Linked DNA regions of Homo sapiens: all the other regions are reported to be linked to region 1. Evidence: microRNA targets listed by miRTarBase, many of them from high-throughput screens and not tested one by one. Region 1 holds a microRNA gene; each other region holds the end of a gene's coding sequence.
Evidence for each region. Region 1 holds the annotated microRNA hsa-miR-6506-5p (ACUGGGAUGUCACUGAAUAUGGU, at 3,449-3,471, opposite strand). A microRNA usually pairs through its seed, bases 2 to 8, with sites in the 3' UTR of a target mRNA and lowers its output. Matches are read on the target gene's strand: a 7mer-m8 pairs with bases 2 to 8, a 7mer-A1 pairs with bases 2 to 7 and ends in A, and an 8mer does both.

Region 2: miRTarBase lists TENT5B as a target of hsa-miR-6506-5p. Seed matches in the 3' UTR shown: 7mer-m8 at 710-716.
Region 3: miRTarBase lists ATCAY as a target of hsa-miR-6506-5p. Seed matches in the 3' UTR shown: 8mer at 2,297-2,304, 7mer-m8 at 2,431-2,437, 7mer-m8 at 2,595-2,601, 7mer-m8 at 2,730-2,736 and 7mer-m8 at 3,510-3,516.
Region 4: miRTarBase lists VDAC2 as a target of hsa-miR-6506-5p. Seed matches in the 3' UTR shown: 8mer at 3,116-3,123.

The regions. Positions count from the first base shown.
Region 1 is chr16:15,607,624-15,613,234 of GRCh38, forward strand. It overlaps MIR6506 (microRNA 6506), which reads right to left and starts at 3,472; the gene lies at 3,407-3,472. It overlaps MARF1 (meiosis regulator and mRNA stability factor 1), which reads right to left. Exons shown (of 27, transcript NM_014647.4): 17 at 4,934-5,154; 18 at 3,969-4,111; 19 at 3,352-3,485; 20 at 1,900-2,102; 21 at 668-895. RefSeq lists an enhancer at 2,849-3,143.
Region 2 is chr1:27,000,654-27,006,264 of GRCh38, reverse strand. It overlaps TENT5B (terminal nucleotidyltransferase 5B), which reads left to right. Exons shown (of 2, transcript NM_052943.4): 2 at 1-1,245. The coding sequence ends at 321. It overlaps TRNP1 (TMF1 regulated nuclear protein 1), which reads right to left. Exons shown (of 2, transcript NM_001013642.3): 2 at 5,379-5,611. Among named protein-coding and RNA genes, the nearest start is that of TENT5B, 9.4 kb to the left of the region's middle. RefSeq lists enhancers at 1-505, 1,794-2,438, 3,989-4,148, 3,866-4,469.
Region 3 is chr19:3,923,457-3,929,067 of GRCh38, forward strand. ATCAY (ATCAY kinesin light chain interacting caytaxin) reads left to right here. Exons shown (of 13, transcript NM_033064.5): 13 at 1,127-4,626. The coding sequence ends at 1,136. Among named protein-coding and RNA genes, the nearest start is that of NMRK2, 6.8 kb to the right of the region's middle.
Region 4 is chr10:75,230,529-75,234,528 of GRCh38, reverse strand. It overlaps VDAC2 (voltage dependent anion channel 2), which reads right to left. Exons shown (of 10, transcript NM_001391963.1): 10 at 3,081-3,631. The coding sequence ends at 3,540. It overlaps COMTD1 (catechol-O-methyltransferase domain containing 1), which reads left to right. Exons shown (of 7, transcript NM_144589.4): 7 at 304-888. The coding sequence ends at 456. Among named protein-coding and RNA genes, the nearest start is that of COMTD1, 3.4 kb to the left of the region's middle. RefSeq lists a silencer at 164-343 and an enhancer at 474-623.

The DNA.
Region 1 (5,611 bases):
ATGTGTGCAGCTAGTAATGGGCCTGTAACTGAGGGTGCCGTCCTTCATGCTTCCCTTTCCATTCCTTCCTCCTGGCAGTGACTTCTTCTGGTCCTGTGGGGGAGGAGGCCGAAAACTGGCAGCTGCTCTGCCTAGGACAGGAAGGGTCAAGTGCAGTCCAGGACAGCAAACAGCACGAGCTGCCCTCTCTACTACAGCTCTGCCAGTGACAAAGGCCACTCTGCACCCTCGCTTGCTCCTAAGCCTACTCCTAAGTGGGTGAGAATGTGGAGGGAGAGGACACTGTGTGATTACGGGCTCCCAAGAACGTCACAGGCAAAACTCACACTGGAAGGAGTCAAGCTCAGGCCAGCAGTGCTGAGGCAGCTGCACCTCATGACCGAACCCTGGGGTGAAGAGTGACCTCATCAGTTCACAAAGGCATTGCTTTGGCAAGGCCATTCAGAAACACACAAGAGGAAGACCAAAACTCTCAACTTCCAAACCAAGGCTTCTATTACCTAATAAGCACTAATGACACAAAACGAGTCATAATGCTGTGACAGTTAAGTAGTTCAAGGTGTAAATAAAGAAACGCTACAGCACACGCAAACGTCCTAATGAGAATTAGGTCACTGTGAGTTTTATCCCATGAGGGAAAAAAAAAAAAAAAAAAAAAAACATTTACCTTCACGACATGGCAGAGTTTCTGAGTTAAAGCCGAAATGGAACTGACATCATAGTCTTGGAGACGAAATGTATAACCAAAAGTTTTAGCATATTCTGTAAGGAGATCTGTCATCATAAGGCAGTTATCTTTTTGGGACCGAAGGAGTTTAACAAACTGGGCAGCTAGAGCTTTGAACCGCTCCACCTCTGTCAGAGTAAGGATCTTTTCTTCTCCACATTCCAATACCTTTGAAAACACACGGGGGGAGGAAAGGGAAAATAAACAAATCACGGGTGTTTACAGAATAGCAAAAAAAGTATGCAGCTAGTAATGAAAAAACAAGTCAGCGTTACTGAATGGGTATAAAGTTTCAGTTGTGTAAGATGAAAAAGTTCAGAAGATCGGTTGCATAACAATGTGAATGTGCTGACCACTACTGGACAGGAGATATAAAGATAGTTACGAAGGTAAGTTCTATGTTATGTGTATTGTGCCACAATAAAACAATTTTTAAAAAGCACTTCAGTAGTAAAAAAAGAAAATAAAATCAACAACAGAAATTTGGTTTAACTTAGCAACAGCGAACAGCTTAGCACTGATGTTACCTCATGTACTCAGACCTACCTTCAACACGAAGGATTTTAAAAGTATAAAAGTAATGAACAAATATTCAGTGTAAGAAATCAGCAGGTGTGGTGGCTCACGCCTGTAATCCCAGCACTCTGGGAGGCTGAGACAGGCGGATCAACTGAGGTCAGGAGCTCAAGACCAGCCTGGCCAACGTGGTGAAACACCATCTCTACTAAAAATAGAAAAATTAGCTGGGCATGGTGGCGGGCACCTGTAATCCCCAGCTACTCGGGAGGTTGAGGCAAGTGAACTGCTTGAACCCGCAGGCGGAGGTTGCAGTGAGCCAAGATTGCGCCATTGCACTCCAGCCTGGGCGACAAGAAAGAAACTCCGTCTCAAAAAACAAAAACAAACAAACAAAAAAAAGAAAACCTACTGAATCTTTTTTTCAATAATTACCCCCAAAACAAGTTTGAATAATCCTTTATTGAAGGAAAAAGCCATATTTATCTAAAAATACTAATGAGTCAGGAATATGGCTTCTCTGACTGGAATAGCTTAGATTTTCATCCTCTTTCGTAACTCCCTACTTCCCAGAAAAACAGGTCTGGAACGTGAAAAAGTATTTCCTATACGTTGTTCAGAAAAATACTTTATAAAATTAGAATTTCTTCACTCACTTGTAAAGTATCAGGTATGGCTTCAAAAAGTTCAAGTAGTTTGGTAAACCCATAGTACGCAAGTTTGCACTGCCGGCCAAAGTGGTGATGGTAAGAAGGGATAAATTTATTAAAGGGCATCCGGAAATGGGGTTGGTGACGCAGCAAATCAACGACATCCTTGGAGAACTGTTTTGTCCTTTCTATTTCATCCTGAGTGCGTTCTTTTAAAAAAACCAAAAAACATAAAATCACAGTTTTTTTCTACCCATTTGTGTTCAACATCCACACTAGAGTAAATCCTTTTGGGAATTTATAAACGATATCATCCTTGCCTTCCAAACACACACAACCTAAAACAAACACATATACTCTTCCCTCTTTGCAAGTGGTTCTCAAACATGTTCCAGGGCAGAACACCAGGAAGTTATGATATTATTATATTATGAAATTCATATATATTCATCTTATAAGCTAGAAACAATGTCATCTTATAAGCTAGAAACAATTTTCTAGCCCCTGCCCCATATCTATTAACATGACACACACCCAGGTCCCTGTACTTAAGCAAGTACTCTAGAAATTATTCCCATGAAATCACGCTTCTGAATATCCCCACTTTTTTTGTTTATTCATCTGATCTTCAGTTAAAACTTGCTAGCAGAAGAGAGAATCAGGCTTCAAAAGTTGAACAAAAATAAACAGGAGGGAAAGCTTAAGCTGAGATTGTTTCTATTAATTTTTAAGTGAGAATGGGCCCTGGAATTCTATGATTTCATGGACATCAATGTTCTGCAGGAGCACCGTTTAAGAACCAGATAATAGAAGGAGGATACGACCATACAGTCACCCCTTGGTGTTCTCAAGGGATCGGGTCCAGGACCCTGCCTGGATACCAAAATCCGCACCTACTCAAGTCTTGCGGTCTGCCCCGCGGAAACTGCAGACACGAAAAATTGGCCCCCAGTATCCATGAGTTTCGCATCCCTCAAATACTGTACTTTCTACCCGTAACTGGACCTGTGCAGTTCTGACTTCAACTATTAAAATTTGAAAGGCAAAAGAAAAAAAAACATTCGAGTTGTCTTCCCTTCTCAAGTGTGCACAGTAAATAAAGTAGCTCAGAGTTCAACAGAAGAGCAAAGCCAACAGGCACGGTGACAGATTCTCAACTGGATGACTAAGGCTCATGTAGCCACAGCCAGGCTGCAGAAGGCATTTGAGCAAAGTGCTGATGATGCCCCTTTTTCCCCTTAGAGTCAATTCTAAAAAGCCAGCCTGCTTTTGTTCTTGAGAACAGCTTCACCTACTTTGAAGAACACAGAATCCAAAGAGCAGCAGTTTTCACACTGTGCTTTCTGTGGAATCTTCAGGAAGCACGGACAGGGAGGGAAAACCACATCTTCCATGCCACACTATGTTAAAATAACAGGAGATAGACAATATCCTTCCAGCAAATGTTAAGTCACATACCTCTTTTGGGGATACAAATCACCATTTCATTATCTTGTTGGGACAAGCAGATGGTTGTGTCTGGAATCTCTGATACGATGTCAATCAACTCACAAACACCATATTCAGTGACATCCCAGTCCTTTGAGAAACACCTAGGTTTTAACAACGGAAGTGGATACGGAATGAGTAGTATCATCGGTAGAAGAACTACAAGTTTTCCGGCCGGGCGCTGGGGCTCACGCCTGTAATCCCAGCACTTTGGGAGGCCGAGGTGGACGGATCACGAGGTCAAGAGATCGCGACCATCCTGGCTAACATGGTGAAACCCCGTCTCTACTAAAAAATAGAAAAAATAAGCCGGGTGTGGTGGCGGGCGCCTGTAGTCCCAGCTACTCTGGAGGCTGAGGCAGGACAACGGCATAAACCCGGGAGGCGGAGCTTGCAGTGAGCCAAGATCGTGCCACTGGGCGACAGAGCGAGACTCCGTCTCAAAAAAAAAAAAAAAAAAACAAAAAACTACTACAAGTTTTCCAAAAGAATGCTTAATAGAAATACTAGATAACTATTTAGAGTTTGGCAGAAGATAAAATGTCCTAAAATATTTACTTTCATTTCTGTTCTTTTCATCAACTCACCAGTGATAAGCCTGTGAGAATTCTCTCACAATGACCTGTTTGCTGGCCTGGGATTTGAGAAGTTTTAGTAAATCCTGAGTAAAGCGCTTCACCTGGGCCCTGTGGGTAAGGGTCAGCAGACGTTTGGAGCCCATTCCAAGAATCTGCAAAGCAAATAGTTTATTTATACACATAAGACCTCAGCAGACAGCGACTTCCTTGCTGCTGGCTCACCCTCTCGTTACTAGCCTCAGAGCATGACTCCCTTTATGTAGAATGTGTGCAATTTGAAACACATGTCGATCAACAAAATGTAGTTGGTCAAAAGGAACAAATGTCCAAGGCCTTCTGAAACTCTTATCGTTTTTGGCCTGGCACACCTTCTCCCAAACAGTCGTTGAGTATAAAAATGAAAAGTGTAATCTTTTGAAAAGAAAAGTCGTGAGTACAGAAATGAAAACTGTATTGGTTGTCCAGACAAATTGGTCTACAAGTTTTTCAAGCCGTTTTTAGTGAGTGGGAAGCTGTTATAACACTGTGAGTTAACTGGTAAAAGTCTTCATAGGATCCAGTGCTACACTCTAGCCCAGTAACTTGTCTCCAACTAGTTAAATTTAGAAGAAAGGTTAAGCCCTTGACTCTCACATAGGCACCAACATACAAGTATGTGGCTATTCATGGGAGCTTCCTTGTAATCATGAACAGTTCTGGAGAAAGCTGTGCTGGGATGAAGAAGGTCTATAGAGCTTAGAGGGAAAATACTCCTCAGTCCTCCAAGGAGTTCCTCTAAAACTGGAAACTAGCAGCGTTCTGAAAAATTGAGAAGCCGCCTGTGTGTGTTATTCCTGCCCTCTGAAGAAAGTTTTTAGTGGATGTTCTGCCCAGAACTGACTTCTTAGGAATTAAACTGTTTCTTTGATGGAGGCAGCCAAAGCCATGGAGGAACATTCCTGCCTGTAAACAAGTAATCCCGTGACACGCCTTACCTGCAATACATGAGGCACTGCTTCTAATAACTCAATCAGCTTGGAGTATCCGTAGTCTGACACTCGGCACTGCTTTGCAAAATGATGGTGATAGGATGGGATGAAATGACTGATGGGTATGACACAAGATGGCTGGCTTTTCAGCAAGTCAATCACTTCTCTACTGAACTGGATCAGCTGGGGGTTACCTACAGGACTCTTCGAACGCAGAAGCCAAGGGTCTAGAAGAAAAAGAACGTGTATAAGACAGAAAGCACAGATTTCACCAGCTGAAAGAAGGGAAAATGGCCCTGCAGTCCCTGGCTTGAGTTCGATCATGGGGAAGCAAACAAAACCAAATACAGTAGCTGCTTTACGTCTCAGTTTCTATATTCAGGTCTCATAGTCCAATAACTAGCTAACTAACTTATTCACGGGCTGTCAAATGCTGTCCCACTAATCCTCAAAGTTAAGCGGCCAAGGTAAAGCAGAGTCTACTATAGTGTTATTTATAGCAGAAGTCAAAGTACACAAGAAGCTCCCAGTTTAGAAACTAGTTATATTTCCAAGATCCTTCTGAAACTTGGTCATGTGGAACGTACCTTTCCACAAAGTTATAAATGGTCATCAGGTAGGTGGCCCAGAAGAGCAAAATTAATCCATAGTGGAGCTGAAAACGTTACCCAGAAAACCACAGAA
Region 2 (5,611 bases), not on the chromosome of region 1:
CGGCGCACCCTAGAGCGCTACCTGGAGGCCCACTTCGGTGGGGCAGATGCAGCCCGCCGTTACGCCTGCCTGGTGACACTGCACCGGGTGGTCAACGAGAGCACCGTGTGCCTCATGAACCACGAGCGCCGCCAGACGCTGGACCTCATTGCCGCACTGGCGCTGCAGGCACTGGCTGAGCAGGGCCCAGCTGCCACTGCCGCCCTGGCCTGGCGCCCTCCAGGCACTGACGGGGTTGTGCCAGCCACTGTCAATTACTACGTGACCCCCGTGCAACCTCTCCTGGCTCACGCCTATCCCACCTGGCTGCCTTGTAACTGACTCAGACCCTGGCCAGAAGGGAAGGGACTGGGCCTCACGGGGTGGGGTGGGGCCTCCAAGAGTGTGTGGAGGACATGACCAGAGGCGCAGAATGTGCCAGGAGGCCCAGCACTGCAGGGTTGGGCCTTTGATTGAACAGACCAGACTTTCCCGAGCACGAGGCCCCTGTGGGCTTAATGCCAGCCTGGGGCTCTCAGCAGGAGGACCCTTTGGTTATTGCATCACACTTTTGGACCAGCATGCCGGTGGGGTGCAGGCGCCATTTGTCTTGGAAGTCAATTTCCTTCAGGAGACAAAGCAAGTTTGGGGTGGTAGCCTTAATGCCCAGCACCTTGGATTGATTCCCATGGTCTAAGAGGGTCTTTTTGACTAAGGCCAGCCTGTGGTGATCCCAGCAGCTTTGGAGGGCCTGCAGCCCACACACTGACTGATACATGGTATGTTACAGGGACTTGTCACTTTGGATCAGGCTGGGCCACTACAGGGCCTGATGGGCCAACTTGGGTAATCACTGGGAGGAGGGAAACTGAGGCCCGAGGCAGATACCTGGGTTTGGGGAGGGCTGGGTTTAGCCCGGTTCTCTGAACTACATACCCCCAGCTGTGAAGCCTTCCTCTTGAGGGGTTGAGGTGGGCAGTATACAGGAGCCAAGCAGCCCAGGGTGGGTCGCAGCCCAGGCCCCTTCCAGGGTGCCACTCCTTTCCCCCTTGTGTTGCAAGGAGCCCTCCTGCCTGGGAGCTTGTTCTTTGGAAGGTGCTGAGCCTGAATTTGCCACAGTCAAGTCAACGTTCCCACCCCACTGGCTTGGTTACAGGGCTCTCACATGGGGTAGGGGAGCCATACTCCCACCCCCTTGCGTATTCCCCTGGGTTTGTTGATATTTTGCACTCTTAACACCTGCCAATAAAGACGGTCTACACTGAACCTTAGTGCCATGCTTCCTCTGGGGAAAGAAGGACCTTCCGTAGCAGTGGGGGTTGCAGCTGCCTCCCCCAGTTGGAGTCTGGCTTGTACTGTGGAAGGGAGCATTTGCGGGGGCGGGGTTTGAAGCCTGGGCTATGGCTGGGGGACTGCCCCTCCTTCTCCCAACCCCAGCCGCAGCCTGACCAGCTGTATATTAAGAGCTGCTGTCTACATGTGTGACCTGCACGTTGCCTTAGCAGGTCTAGGGCTCTTGTTAAGGAGTAAATATTTTTATGTTTTCTACCTGGAATCCAAATAGCTCTGGGCCTAGACTCAGACTCTGGTGCTCAGGGGTACTTGTTCCCAGCTCTGTCTACCCCGTCTCTTCCAAGGGAGCAGCTAGAGAACAGGCTGGGTGAATCTGGACTGGAGGCCCCTCCAGTAAAGGTGGCTGAGACTGGGGAACTTGTAGGGTTCCCCCTAAGCCTGAGCCCAGGTAGGGCCTCTATTTGGGAGAGGCTCCCTCAGTCCTCCAGCTCCTTCCCTTGCCCCGAGCACTGATGGGTGTGCTCTGGCTCGCTCTAATCAGATCCCCTGGATGGGGAGGGTCTCCCCTTCCCAAACCCACATGGGGCCATGCCAGGCTGTCTAGGAGTGTCAGCCGCAAGTTCCTAGCATGCTGCGCCCTCAGAGTATCAGCCAGTCAGTCATGGGCCTGGACGCTGCCTGCTGTTTGCCCAGACTCTTTGATCCAGGGATTGCAAAGCCCTTAACATATTCAGCCTCATTAGGGGCCTCTGAAGTGGTGACTTTGATGGTTCTGGCCAGGGTGGAAAAAACAATGCTGCAGAGGAGGCCCCAGGTCACCAGGGTGAGTCCAGCCACCTCACCTGCTCTGAGTCCCTTGTGCTGCTGGGCTCAAAATGGCTGGAAAGTGAACAGAAAGGCTTTCTTTGCTTGGTGACTAAAACCAGCTCCCACCCCCATCCCAGCTGTGACCACCCAACTATGGTCATGGGAAGGACTAAGTTTGTCTCACCTCCTGAGTTGGCTATTTCAGCCTTGGCATGAGAGGCTCACAGTGTAAACACAACAGACTTACCTTTTTGGGCTGGGGGGTGGAGTTCACCTGGATGTGCTTGTTTAGTTAAGGGCTGAAAAAGCGAGAAACCCATTTGGTACATGTGTGTATACACTGCATTCAGCCACCATGTGCCAGACACCGTTCTGGGTGCTGGGAATACATCAGCAAACAAAAGACAAAATCCCTGTCCTTGTGAAGACTACATTCTAACGGAGTAGATAGAAAATAAACCGAACCGTATGGTCTTAGATGATCAGTGATATGTAAAAATATAGCAGGGTAAGGGACTGGAAATGCTGGGTTTTGAAAATTGAAAAATAAGTCAGGAGCCTGGCGCAGTGGCTCATGCCTGTAATCCCAGCACTTTGGGAGGCTGAGGTGGGCAGATCACTTGAGGTCAGTAGTTCAAAATCAACCTGGCCAACATGGTGAAACCCCATCTCTACTAAAAATACAAAAATTAGCTGGGTATGGTGGCGTGTGCCTGTAATTCCAGCTGGTCGGGAGGCTGAGGCAGGAGAATCGCTTGAACCTGGGAGGCAGAGGTTGCAGTGAGCTGAGATCATACCACTGCACTCCAGCCTGGACAACAGAGCGAGACTCCATCTCAAAAAAAAAAAAAAAAAAAAGTCAGGTGCAACTCATTGAAAGGTGATATTTGATTGAACAAAGACATAAAGGTGGTGGGAGGTGGGCATGAAGATGTTTAGAGAAAGAGCATTCCAGGCAGAGAGCTTGCCTGTGAATGTGCATGCACTGTGGCACATGTACCTGAGGGTGTCTGGCAGGCCTCGTCCAGGTGCTGGTACTGCACACACGCATGGGCCTGAGGCAGTGGGGGCGTGTGAGACAGTTATTCACAGTAGCAGCCACCATTCCTGGTGGGCTTCACTCCAGCAGGCACTATGCTGAGGTCTTCCCAATCATGATCTCCCAAATCATCCTTGCAACAACTCCACAAGGGGAAAGAAAGCATTTCCATTTGGCAGACAGAAACTGAGACCAGAGAGGTCAAAGAGGTTTGTCTGGATCCAGAGCCATTGCTGTTAACCTCTGTTCCATCCTGCTCCTGCACTGTGATTTCACATGATTGTGACAGTTGTCTCCTGTACGTATGTGACAAGGCATAATTTGACATTACTGTGACATTTGTCATTTTATATGTGACTATGGCACAGTGTAGCAGTGTGGCAAGATGTACATTTTTTTTTTCTTTTTCTGAGACGGAGTCTCGCTCTGTCGCCCAGGCTGGAGTGCAGCGGTGCGATCTCAGCTCACTGTAACCTCTGCCTCCCGTGTTCAAGCGATTCTCCTGCCTCAGCCTCCTGAGTAGCTGGGATTACAGGCACCCACCACCATGCCCAGCTAATTTTTGTATTTTTAGTAGAGACGGGGTTTCACCATGTTGGTCAGGCTGGTCTCGAACTCTTGACCTCGTGATCTGCCCACCTCGGCCTCCCAAAGTGCTGGGATTACAGGCGTGAGCCACCACACCTGGCCAAGATGTATGTTTTCTTGATATACATGTGACAGTAATTATGGCTTGTGATGACTGTCCAGGGCTCATGATGGCAGCAGCACGCCTGTGGTTTTGTTTGGGAGTGGTGCAGCGTTTCTGAGTGTGAGAAAAACACCGACTCAGTGGCTGACATGGTTCCTCCTGTGGACAGTTCCTGCAGCTACCTAAGACACCAGGACAGGCAGGAATCAGGAACTGGGACTCAGAGCCAGCAATGCAAAGGCTGAGAGGGAAAAGCCCTGTCCTCTACCTTCCAACCTTACTGTGCTCTCCAAGCAACAGTCCACCCACCCCTTCAGACCCGAGGGTTGTGGGAGCTCCGGATGGGGAAGGAGCGTTGCTGTGGACTTTGAGGAACAAGGCATAGCCTCAGACAGTTACATGATATGCTGCCCTTCCGCTTTCACTCGCCACACTTCTGCTCTGTTCCCTGGGGGCTGGCATCTGTGGACTGCATCAATGGCTCCCTTGTTCCCCGGCTTCCTGTTGGGTTGCCAATGAGACATCCCAGCGTCTTAAGGAGACTTAAGGGAGGAGTAGATATTTATTCTCTTTGTTCCCTCTCTACCAGGTTGCCATGGTTGGCCACATCTCTCAACCAAAGGTCACGGTTCTTGTCAGGGGCCCCACTCCACACAGTGACCTCTCCTCACCCTCAGACTCAGGAGTTGCAAAGGCTTCTCACTGTTGCTGGCCCCAGATTGCTGAACCATCCCATTACATTTTTTTTTTTGGGTGGAGGGGGGAGAGCACTCACCCAGGCTGGCATGCAGTGACGCGATCTCAGCTCACTGCAACCTCCGCCTCCCAGGTTCAAGCCACTCTCATGCCTCAGCCTCCCAAGGAGCTTGGACTACAGGTGCACACAACAACGCCTGGCTAATTTTTGTATTTTTAATAGGATGGGGTTTCGCCATGTTGGCCACACTGGTCTCAAACTCCTGACCTCAGGTGATCTGCCTGCCTCGGCCTCCCAAAGTACTGGGATTACAAATGTGAGCCACCAAACCCAGCCCCTTGTTAGTTTCTTAAGCCCAGCCCACGCCTTTGGAAATAGTCTGTTTTATTTCTTGAGATAGGGTCTTGTTCTGTTGCCCAGGCTGGAGCGCACAGTGGTAGGATCACAGCTCAGTGCAGCCTTGACCTCCTGGGCTCAAGCAATCCTCCCACCTCAGCCTCCTAAGTAGCTGGTACCACAGGCATGTGCCACCCCACCTGGCTAATTTTTTCATTTTTATAGAGCAGGGATCTCCCAGGCTGGTCTCGAACTCCTGAGCTCAAGCAACCCTCCTGCCTCAGCCTCCCAAAGTGCTGGGATTACAGGTGTGATCCACCATGCCAGGCCAGAATAGCCTATGTTTAAAACACTTCCCAGTTTGAGTGTGCCATCTCCTGCTTAGACACCGACTGACAAAACAGGTCCATATGGTCGCCAGCACAGTCACACTAGTCACACAACCCCCACAGGCCATGGTGCTGCCATGTTGTCACCAGTTCGCACAACCCTCCTTGGTGTCACACAGTCTCACATGTGCATTCTCATCCCTGAGCTCCGTCATCACATCCTTTAATGAGGAAGACTTCCTGAGGAGGGGGGTAAGAGCAGGCGGCTGTGAGTCAGGTCAAGGGAGAATTGGTCTGCAAATCAAAGTCAACAGGGCCAGACTGCCAAACGAAACTAAATACAAGCTGCTCCAGGAACCGTCAACTTAAAGAGCCATAATAGACACAGAGGAAAGGCAGCAAGGGCACTTGCAAAGTGAACCTCAGAACCCCATGCATTT
Region 3 (5,611 bases), not on the chromosome of region 1:
TGGATGGATGGAAGGATGTTTGGATGATGGGTGGATAGATAGATGAATGAATGAGTGGAGGGATGGGAGGATAGATGGATGATAGGTGGATGGATGGATGGATAAATGGATGGATGGATGGATGGGTGAAGGTTGACTGTGTGGATGGATGAGTGGATGAATGGATGGGTGGAGGGATGGAAAGATGGACTGATGGAGAGATGGATGGGTAGGCATATGGATGGGTAAATGGTAGATGAATGGTTGGTTGGATGAATGGTTGGGTAGATGAATGGGTGGGTGGATGGATGGATGGGTAGATGGATGGGTGAGTGGGTGGGTGGGTGGATGAGTGAGTGACTGGATGGGTGGGCAGATGGATGAATGGATGGGTGGGTGGGTGGATGGATGGATGGATGGATGGATAGATAGGTGGATGGATGGGTGCATGGATGGGTGGATGGCTAGATGTGTGGGTGGTTGTATGGTTGGTTGGATGCATGGATGGATGGCTAGATGGATGAGTGGGTGGGTGGATGGATGGATGGATGGATGGATGGATGGATGGACAGATGGATGAGTGGGTGGATGGATGGGTGGGCAGATGGATCAATGGATAGGTGGGTGGATGGATGGATGGATGGTTGAATAGATGGATGAGTGGAGGGATGGATGGATGAATGGATGGATGTGTGGGTGGGTGGATGGGTGGATGGACGGATGAGTGAGTGGCTGGATGGGTGGGCAGAGGGATGAATGGATCCCTCCATTGAGTGAATGGATGGGTGAGTGAGTGTGTGGATGGATGGATGGATGGATGGATGGATGGATGGATGGGTGGATGGATAGATGTGTGGGTGGTTGTATGGTTGGTTAGTTGGGGGGTGGGTTGAAGCCTCCCTCCAGGCTGATTGAGGTTGCCAGTCTCCAGGGCCTGTTCTGCTGAGGCACCAGGAAGGAGGCCCTCAGAGCCACACTTAGAAAGTGGGTGGCAGGAGCCGGGCCCTGAAGGGCATGTGCCACTCTTGCTGCTGGGAGTTCACCCACGCTGGGTGGGATCATTGTTTTGGATTACATACATGTAGAAGCGCATTTTGCACTTTTAACATTAACAGCAATAACTTGGCCTGTGTCTTTCCCTCCCTAGCATGTCCTGAGGCGACGTGAGCATAACAAAGGACATGGAAGAAGATTCCAGATGCCAGAAAACCTCTGTCAGACGCCCACTGGCCCCAGATCTCATCCTGCCTCATCCTGAGTCCCAATCTTCCAAGGGTGCCAGCCCCTCCGTTCATCTCTGAAACCCAGCATCCTTTTCAGCTGCTTGAAAACATTGTATTTTTTTTTTTTAACGATGCAGTATTTGTGCGTTCCAGAAAAGGGCCCAGCTCTGAGCCCCTCACCCTTCCACACTCACGAACTCTCAGCCGAGGAAGGCAAGAAGCGCAGGGGGTGGCCCGCGTGGCGTCGGTGGCCTCCGCTCCTGCTCGCAGCCTCTGTGGTCAGAGCTGGATACAAGATTCAAGACCCTTCTCTTGCTTGTCACCCGCTCCAGGTTGGAGCCACAGACACCCACCGCCACCCCGGCTGGGTCTGCGTCCTTTCCTGTGCCTTTCCCTCCAGAATGCGGCCTCAGACCTAGAAGCTCAACCCCCCTATGAGGGCCACGTCCTGGGGTAGCTCCTGACCTCCGACCTTATGTCCAAATTTCACACCCATGGTTTTTCATTTGACCCGCCCCCTTCTCGCTCATAATGACACCCAGCTCCTTTGAGAGGATCAGAGCCCATTGCACAAGAAGAGCCGCTGCCAACCATCCTTGTCCTCCGATTGCAAAATGACACCCCAGTAATCTAGAACATTCTCAAGCCCCTTTAACTCAGATGTCAAGCCACCGGGCAAACCCCGTCAATACCTCCCACCAAGGAATGAGATATGTGGACCTCACTGCTCCCCCAACCCAGCGTCAGGCTGGGACACGCCAACGCTGTTCCGGGTTGGAACAGCAGAGGCTCAGAAACTGGCTCTGAAATAGGCAGACCTAGCAAGAGGAAGATACAGGGTATCGGGCGTTTGAGTGTTTCAGAAGTCATTCGGGAAGATAAATCCAGTGCGCTGGCCGCAGCCACCTGCATTCAAAGCTTGGACCAGCGGGTTCTTGTTCGGGAGGCAAATTTCCCTAGGAAAAAGAAGACAGACTTTTCTAATGTGGTCCAAATGCGGATCACTGGTCAGATGGACTCTAGAAGCACTGAGCTCCCTGTCTCTGGAAGTATTTAAGAAAAGGCTGGGCCAGGCACGATGGCTCACGCCTGTAATCCCAGACTTTGGGAGGCCGAGGCAGGCGGATCACCTGAGGTGAGGAGTTTGAGAACAGCCTGGCCAACATGGTGAAACCTCATCTCTACTAAAAATACAAAAATTAGCCAGGCGTGGTGGCAGGTGCCTGTAATCCCAGCTACTTGGGAGGCTGAGGCATGAGAATCACTTAAACCTGAGAGGCAGAGGTTACAGTGAGCCAAGATCGTGCCACTGCATTCCAGCCTGGGCGACAGAGCAAGACTCTGTCTCAAAAAAAATAAAAAATAATCAGGGCACAGTGGCTCATGCCTGTAATCCCAGCACTCTGGGAGGCTGAGGTGGGTGGATCACCTGAGGTCAGGAGTTCAAGACCAGCCTGGTGAACATGGCGAAACCCCGTCTCTAATAAAAATACAAAAATTAGCCGGGCATGGTGGTGCATGCCTGTAATCCCAGCTACTCGGGAGGCTGAGGCAGGAGAACTGCTTGAACCCAGGAGGCAGAGGTTGCAGTGATCCAAGATCATGCCACTGCACTCCAGCCTGGGCAACAAGAGCAAAACTCCGTCTCAAAATAAAAAGAAAAGAAAAGAATGGACAGTGTTTGCAGAGAGTTGCTCACGAGTTTCCCTCTAATCCTAAATGTCTTCATGTCTATCAGTCTGAGCAGACGGTGAGTAGGGCGGGCACATTCTCCAGGCCCTTCTTCCTAGCTCTGTGGTTGACCTCTCAGCAAGTGCTATCCAGGCTGGGCCAACCAGACCCACAATTAACTGAGCCTCAGTGAAAGCGTCCAGTGCATCTTGACCTGAGACAGCAAGGAATTGCATTTGGGGTTATTCCAACGATGATGGCAGGGAACTGGTGGTATTTAGTGCTGAGGGGCAGTGATACAGAAAGATTTGCCCTGTGGGACAGGGTCCTGCGCGAGTCCCATCCCCAAAAGCCAGCAGCTCCTGCCATGAGGAAGACGGGGTTTCTGAGCAGGCTTATGCCTGCAGGTTCCTGTGGAGCCACCGGCTGTGACGGGACACCTCTGGGTCTCAGCATTGCCCTGGGGAGGCTGGGACATTTAGGGACATGGTAGGGTTTTAACATTTGTTTCCCAAATGTCAAATCCCGGGCACAGGGGCAAGACCCTGTCCCGAATTCCCACCCCAGTGAATGGTGTCGCTGCCAAAGCCAACACAAGATGACAAAAGTGGCTGGGTACGGTGGCTCACGCCTATAATCCCAGCACTTTGGGAGACCGAGACAGGTGGATCACCTGAGGTCAGGAGTTCGAGACCAGGCTGGCCAACATGGTGAAACCCCATCTCTACTAAAAATACAAAAATTAGCTGGGTGTGGTGGCGCGCACCTGTAGTCCCAGCTACTCAGGAGGCTGAGGTAGAAGAATAGCTGGAACCCAGGAGGCAGAGATTGCAGTCAGCCGAGATTGCACCACTGCACTCCAGCCTGGGAGACAGAGCAAGACTGACTCAAAAGAAAAAAAATGACAGAAGCCTGATTATCAGACTGCCCGGAGGAGACAGGCTCCAGCAGATAGATGCCAGCCAGGCCCAGCTGCCACGATTTGTCCCAGGTGACCAAAGGCACGCAGCTCCAGCATGAATCGTTCTAACCCAACAGTGACAAGAACTGCTGGGCCTTAACCGTCATGGAAGACTGGGGCCGCTTCCAAGTCACAGACAGGAGACGGGGACAGGAAAGAACTCATTCCACCCAATCGGACACCTAATAATTGAGTGTCTACAGCAGCAATCAAGTGACAAGTGAGGCCCTACCTGACCCAGAAGGTGCCTGCCGGCTAAACATTCTGCCCCCACCAGAAACTCCAGGGGGTCCGCCCGTTATGCCGTGGCCCACCCACGCCCCTTTGGATCACCAGCAGTCACAGACAACAGGCAGGCGAAACTGAAGACCCCAACTCAGCCCCAGCGGACCCTCCAGAGCAAAAGAGGCCCCCGGCGAGGCCACCTGTCGGCAGGCATGCCGAGGTCAAACAGCCGGGGCCACCGTTCCCAGCTGGGCCACGACCTGCACCGTCCACAGATGGGCTTTGAGATGGATTTGTATCAGGGTGGGGGGTGTGGTTTGGCCAAAATGCAATGGACCCCGACCCCTCCTCGTAAAAGGATGTTGGGTTTCCCTCTGGTGACACATGGGATGCGTCATAAACCCTCCCCCAAAGTCCTGGTCAGCAGCCCATCCTTCCAACGATGAGTTTTGCGGTTTTTCAGAACAGAAATGATCACTACGATTGACGACGGTCGTGATGTTAAGACGTCGTCTCCATGAGCTTTGGGGGGACTTTTATGTGGAATAAAGAAACTATCACTGAGAAGGGAGGTTTGTTCCTTTTGAGTACTAGTAACAGGCAGGGCCCAGTGGCTCACCCCTGCCATCCCAGCACTTTGGGATGCGGAGGCGGGAGGATCACCTGAGGTCAGGAGTTCCAGACCAACCTGGCCAACATGGTGAAACCCCGTCTCTACTAAAAATACAAAAATTAGCCGGGCGTGGTGGCACACGCCTGTAATCCCAGCTACTCAGGAGGCTGAGGCAGGAGAATCACTTGAACCCGGGAGGCAGAGGCTGCAGTGAGCCACGATCACGCCTGCCAGTTCTCTCCATCCACCCAGTGGGGACACTGTGCGGTGGCCATGTCATACCCACCTTGATGTCTCTGTCACCAGCAGGTCCCAAAGTCATGCTACTGTGCTCCAGTTGTGTTTATGCCGGCAGGTGCCCTTTAGGGGAAAAGGTGGGGTCTTCGTGGGTGGATGGAGGGGACAAAGAGGGTGGAGCTGGTGCTGGGATCCTGGGGAGCCGCTCCCAGTTTGGAGGTGACAGCCCCCTCCTTTATCCTACTGCACGGGGTCTCTGATTACCCTGAGAGGTTTCTTGAAAACCCCATTCACGGCCAGGCACGGTGGCTCACGCCTGTAATCCCAACACTTTGGAAGGCCGAGGCAGGTGAATCACTTGAGGTCAGGAGTTTGAGGCCAGCCTGGCCAACGTGGTGAAACCCCGTCTCTACTAAAAATACTAAAATTAGCCAGGCGTGGTGGTGCGCGCCTGTAATCCCAGCTACTCGGGAGGCTGAGCCAGGAGAATTACTTGAACCCAGGGGGCGTAGGTTGCACTGAGCCGAGATGGCGCCACTTCACTCCAGCCTGGGCAAAAGAGACTCCGAACCCCCCACCAAAAAAAAACAGAAAAGAAGGCCGGGCGCGGTGGCTCACGCCTGTAATCCCAGCACTTTGGGAGTCCGAGGCGGGCAGATCACGAGGTCAGAAGATCGAGACCATCCTGGTTAACACGGTGAA
Region 4 (4,000 bases), not on the chromosome of region 1:
AAAGCCCCACCCAGTCCAGTCACGTAGGCTACACCCCCTCCGGGGCTCCGGCCCCGGTACCCAGGCTTTCCTCCGCTTTGGTTCTGTCTCCAGCTCTGGTCACCTCCTGCCCGGGCACCTCCCTCCGAGGCCCCGCCTCCCGCCCAGACACCTCCCTCCGAGACCCCGCCTTCCGTCTGGGCACCTCCCTCCAAGACCCCGCCTCCCGCCCGGGCACCTCCCTCCCAGTCCCCCGCCTTCCGCCCGAGCACCTCCCTCCGAAGCCCCGCCTCCCACGGCCCGGTTGGCCCCGCCCTCCCGCAGGTCCTGTGGCGCGGGAAGGTGCTGCAACCTCCGAAAGGGGACGTGGCGGCCGAGTGTGTGCGAAACCTAAACGAACGCATCCGGCGGGACGTCAGGGTCTACATCAGCCTCCTGCCCCTGGGCGATGGACTCACCTTGGCCTTCAAGATCTAGGGCTGGCCCCTAGTGAGTGGGCTCGAGGGAGGGTTGCCTGGGAACCCCAGGAATTGACCCTGAGTTTTAAATTCGAAAATAAAGTGGGGCTGGGACACACGACCTCCTGAGCCTCCGTGTGTGGCGCTGGATGGGGAAGGGAGGGAAGGCCCAGCACAGACAGCTCCTGCCTTCAGTGAAAGGGGCCTTGAGATTCGTCCCCTCCCTGGCGCCAGGTCTGTGGCCCAACTGCAGGAACCTCCAGCTGGCAGGAGGCAGGTTATAAAGTTTTAACTGGCCTGGCCACGTGTAATGGCCAGAGACCCCAGCACCTCGGGCTTGTCTGCCTCCTACATCTCTCCCTCAGGGCAGGCGAAGCTCTGGTTCTGAGCAGCTGGGACTGGTAGAGAGCCACGTCTGGTGTCTGACAACATGAAAGAGGATTGCAGGGGACCACGGGTGTCACTTGTGTGCTTTTGTAGGTGATGCCAGTTCTGCTGGCGGCTTGCTCATGTCTTCACAGCACAGTCAGCTCCCCAGCCTCACCTCTCCAGTGGAGGCCCTGGTGGGGGAACATCACCTCTAAGAGCCAGGCCAGTTGGCCTGGACCTGAGGACCTCGGGGTTGACTTGAGTATCCTGCCGTGGGGTTGACTTGAGTATCCTGCCGTCTCCTTGAAATTCTTAAGTGAGGGGGATCACTGGCCAGGGAGGCGTGAAGCAGACAAGCCTATAGGTACAGCAGTTGTTACTACACTCCCTAGAGGATGAAGAGAACTTCAGGCTTTCCTGAACCATCTGCCTATGAGGGGAGGTGGAGAAGGAACCAGGCCTCATGGAGCACCTTCGACCCAGGTGCTCTGCTTATTTAAATCTCCCCAACCTCACAGATCTTATCTCCACTGGCAGATGGTCAAATTCTTTCCACTGACACTGCCTCAGGCATAAGTGGCATTAGCCTGGAATTCAAGCAGCTTTTGCCACTACCTGGTAAGCCTCGGTGGTGGGAAGTGTCCCTGGAGACTGATGGAAGCAGAGCTAAAAGAGCCACATGAGGCTGGGCACAGTGGCTCACGCCTGTAATCCCAGCACTTTGGGAGGCTGAGGCAGGTGGATCATTTGAGGTCAGGAGTTCGAGACCAGCCTGGTCAACATGGTGAAATCCGGTCGCTACTAAAAATACAGAAATTAGACAGGTGTGGTGATACACGCTTGTAATCCCAGCTACTCGGGAGGCTGAGGCAGAATTGCTTGAACCCGGGAGACGGAGGTTGCAGTGAGCCGAGACCGCACCACTGCACTCCAGCCTGAGCAACGAAGTGAGACTCCGTCTCAAAAAAAAAAAAAAAAAAAAGCCACACGAGCTCACAGCTCCTGGGACAAACTTTGCATTTTGGACACTACGCAAGACCACGGCTGGAAACCTACCCTTTTCTAACTCATAAAAGCATATTAGGATGCATGTGGGTGAATAGGTTCAATTTACTCTAAGGAAATCCTTGACAAAACAGTTAACTCACTCGTGCCACACCTCAGTCCAAATTACTGTAGCCACTGCCCAATAAAGGGCCACCCATTAGCTAAGGGGCAGCAGTCCCCATGACTAGGGTTTTTCTCTTTGAAGGACCACCAGCAGTGGTTAGTTGCCTGCGGGTCTACTTCACACTGCTGGAGTTGCTTTCAGGCCTAGCCTGCATGGACATCTTTTCATGTTTCTCCTCTTACCTGACTCAAGCTGGCTCAAATTCTAACCCTCTGTCACTTAAGTCATGTCTGTCTGGAGAGGGCCTTCCAGAGAACCATGATTCACATGGGCCATTCAAGCCAGTCCCCTAGGAATAGTGGGACCAGAGGGGTCTTCATGCCCCCAACCCTCCTGTGTGGAGAGCTTGCTTGAGCTCTGGTCTCTCACCAGCTTCTTCTCAACCTGGAAGTTTGTAGCATGTATCATTTCTTGGGTGATAAGTCCTTCCATTTTCTTACCCATTTCTTATCACTCAGGTTCTACCATTCTTCAGGTCTATTACAGATTTGTTGAACAAATCTTCTCCAACCTTTAATCATATCCAATTATCTTCTCCCATCAGAAAACGTACTCTTACCTACTTTTCCAGCCAGAACCACCTATTAATGTCTCATTCATGCCCAGATGAAGGCCAATGCCACGCAGCCTAAAGGGGTTGTCTCTGGTCTCCTACCTATACCCACCTTTCAGTGTGTCTGCCTAGAAGGAAATGAGTAATGACCTCTCACAGTCCCTCAGGTTACCCTCACTGTCTACACCTTACTCCTCTTCTGTATGCTTAACACCATCTCACCAAACCAGGGCCTACTTTATGTTCCTAGCAGTAGCTCACAGGGGTATGGTGTGTTTGTGTAACTTTTCAGCACCTTCTCTTTTTCCTTTCAATGATGCAGGGCAATTCTGCACAGACTTACAAACTGTGCATGTAAAAGTGTAAAAGCATGTATCCTCTTATTGTAGTCTTAAAAAGCTCGTGGAATCTAGGGACACAGAAGATTCTGTGGCACAGATTTAGGTACAGAGCAAAATACTCACTGGAAAAATCAAGTATTGGCTAGCTACCACGGGGATTTGATCCTAGCTGGCAAACGTGGAACTCCGCAAATACTTGGAGCCATTAATTATGTATACTTGTTTTATTCATAATTTGTCATGTTCTGGGATACCAAAAGTAATAATGGCTGAACTTAACAAAATTTGTAACCTCATCTTAATATCCACTGATCCATCTCATTCAATGGTAACAGTCAATGTTTTCTAAAGGAACATAAAAACAAACATGCACACAATTGCACAGTTTTCATAAAGGTCTATTTCATTATTGGTGGGTAGCGCATTTAACAGTTAAATACATTTAAATAATGTATAGGTGACTGCAGGACTGCAGCATTGGTAACTAGATAACCAACTAGAAACCAGCTAACAAAGAACTGTCTAAATACTTAAAATACAGCTCTTGTTGAGATCATCCTTTGTTTTGATCATCTTCTTGGGGGAAAAAAGCCTGCTGCTGGTCACAATGGAAATATATTAAGGCCAAATCTTCTGATATCCATTCCCAAAGGTTTCTTTCAGCTGGATTAAGCCTCCAACTCCAGGGCGAGCCCAACCTTGTGGCCTCCAGCATTAATGCTCTTCCCATCTACCAGAGCAGAGAGTGTAAGCTTCACACCTATTAAGACAAAAAAACACAAAAACAAAAAACCGTGATGTACCTGGCACGTCACTCAGTCTGGGCCTTCTTTCACAGTCATCCCCAGAGCCTGCCTGTCACTTCCTCAGCCTGTCAGCTGACCTACTAGTGCTGGCCACCAGAGGGCGCTTGGAAGTATCTGAGACACCAGAAGAACTGGGTTACCATTCTAGCTAAGGCACCAAGTCACAGAGAAATGTTTTAATAACAACTTCAAAGTGTTCTAGAATATACTATAATGTTGAGTATACTATCCCGATGAAAAGAGACTAAAGACATAATCATAATTCGATCCTAGAAAGGAAAACCTACAATAAAGACACATTTGGGAACGGGGGTAAATCTGAA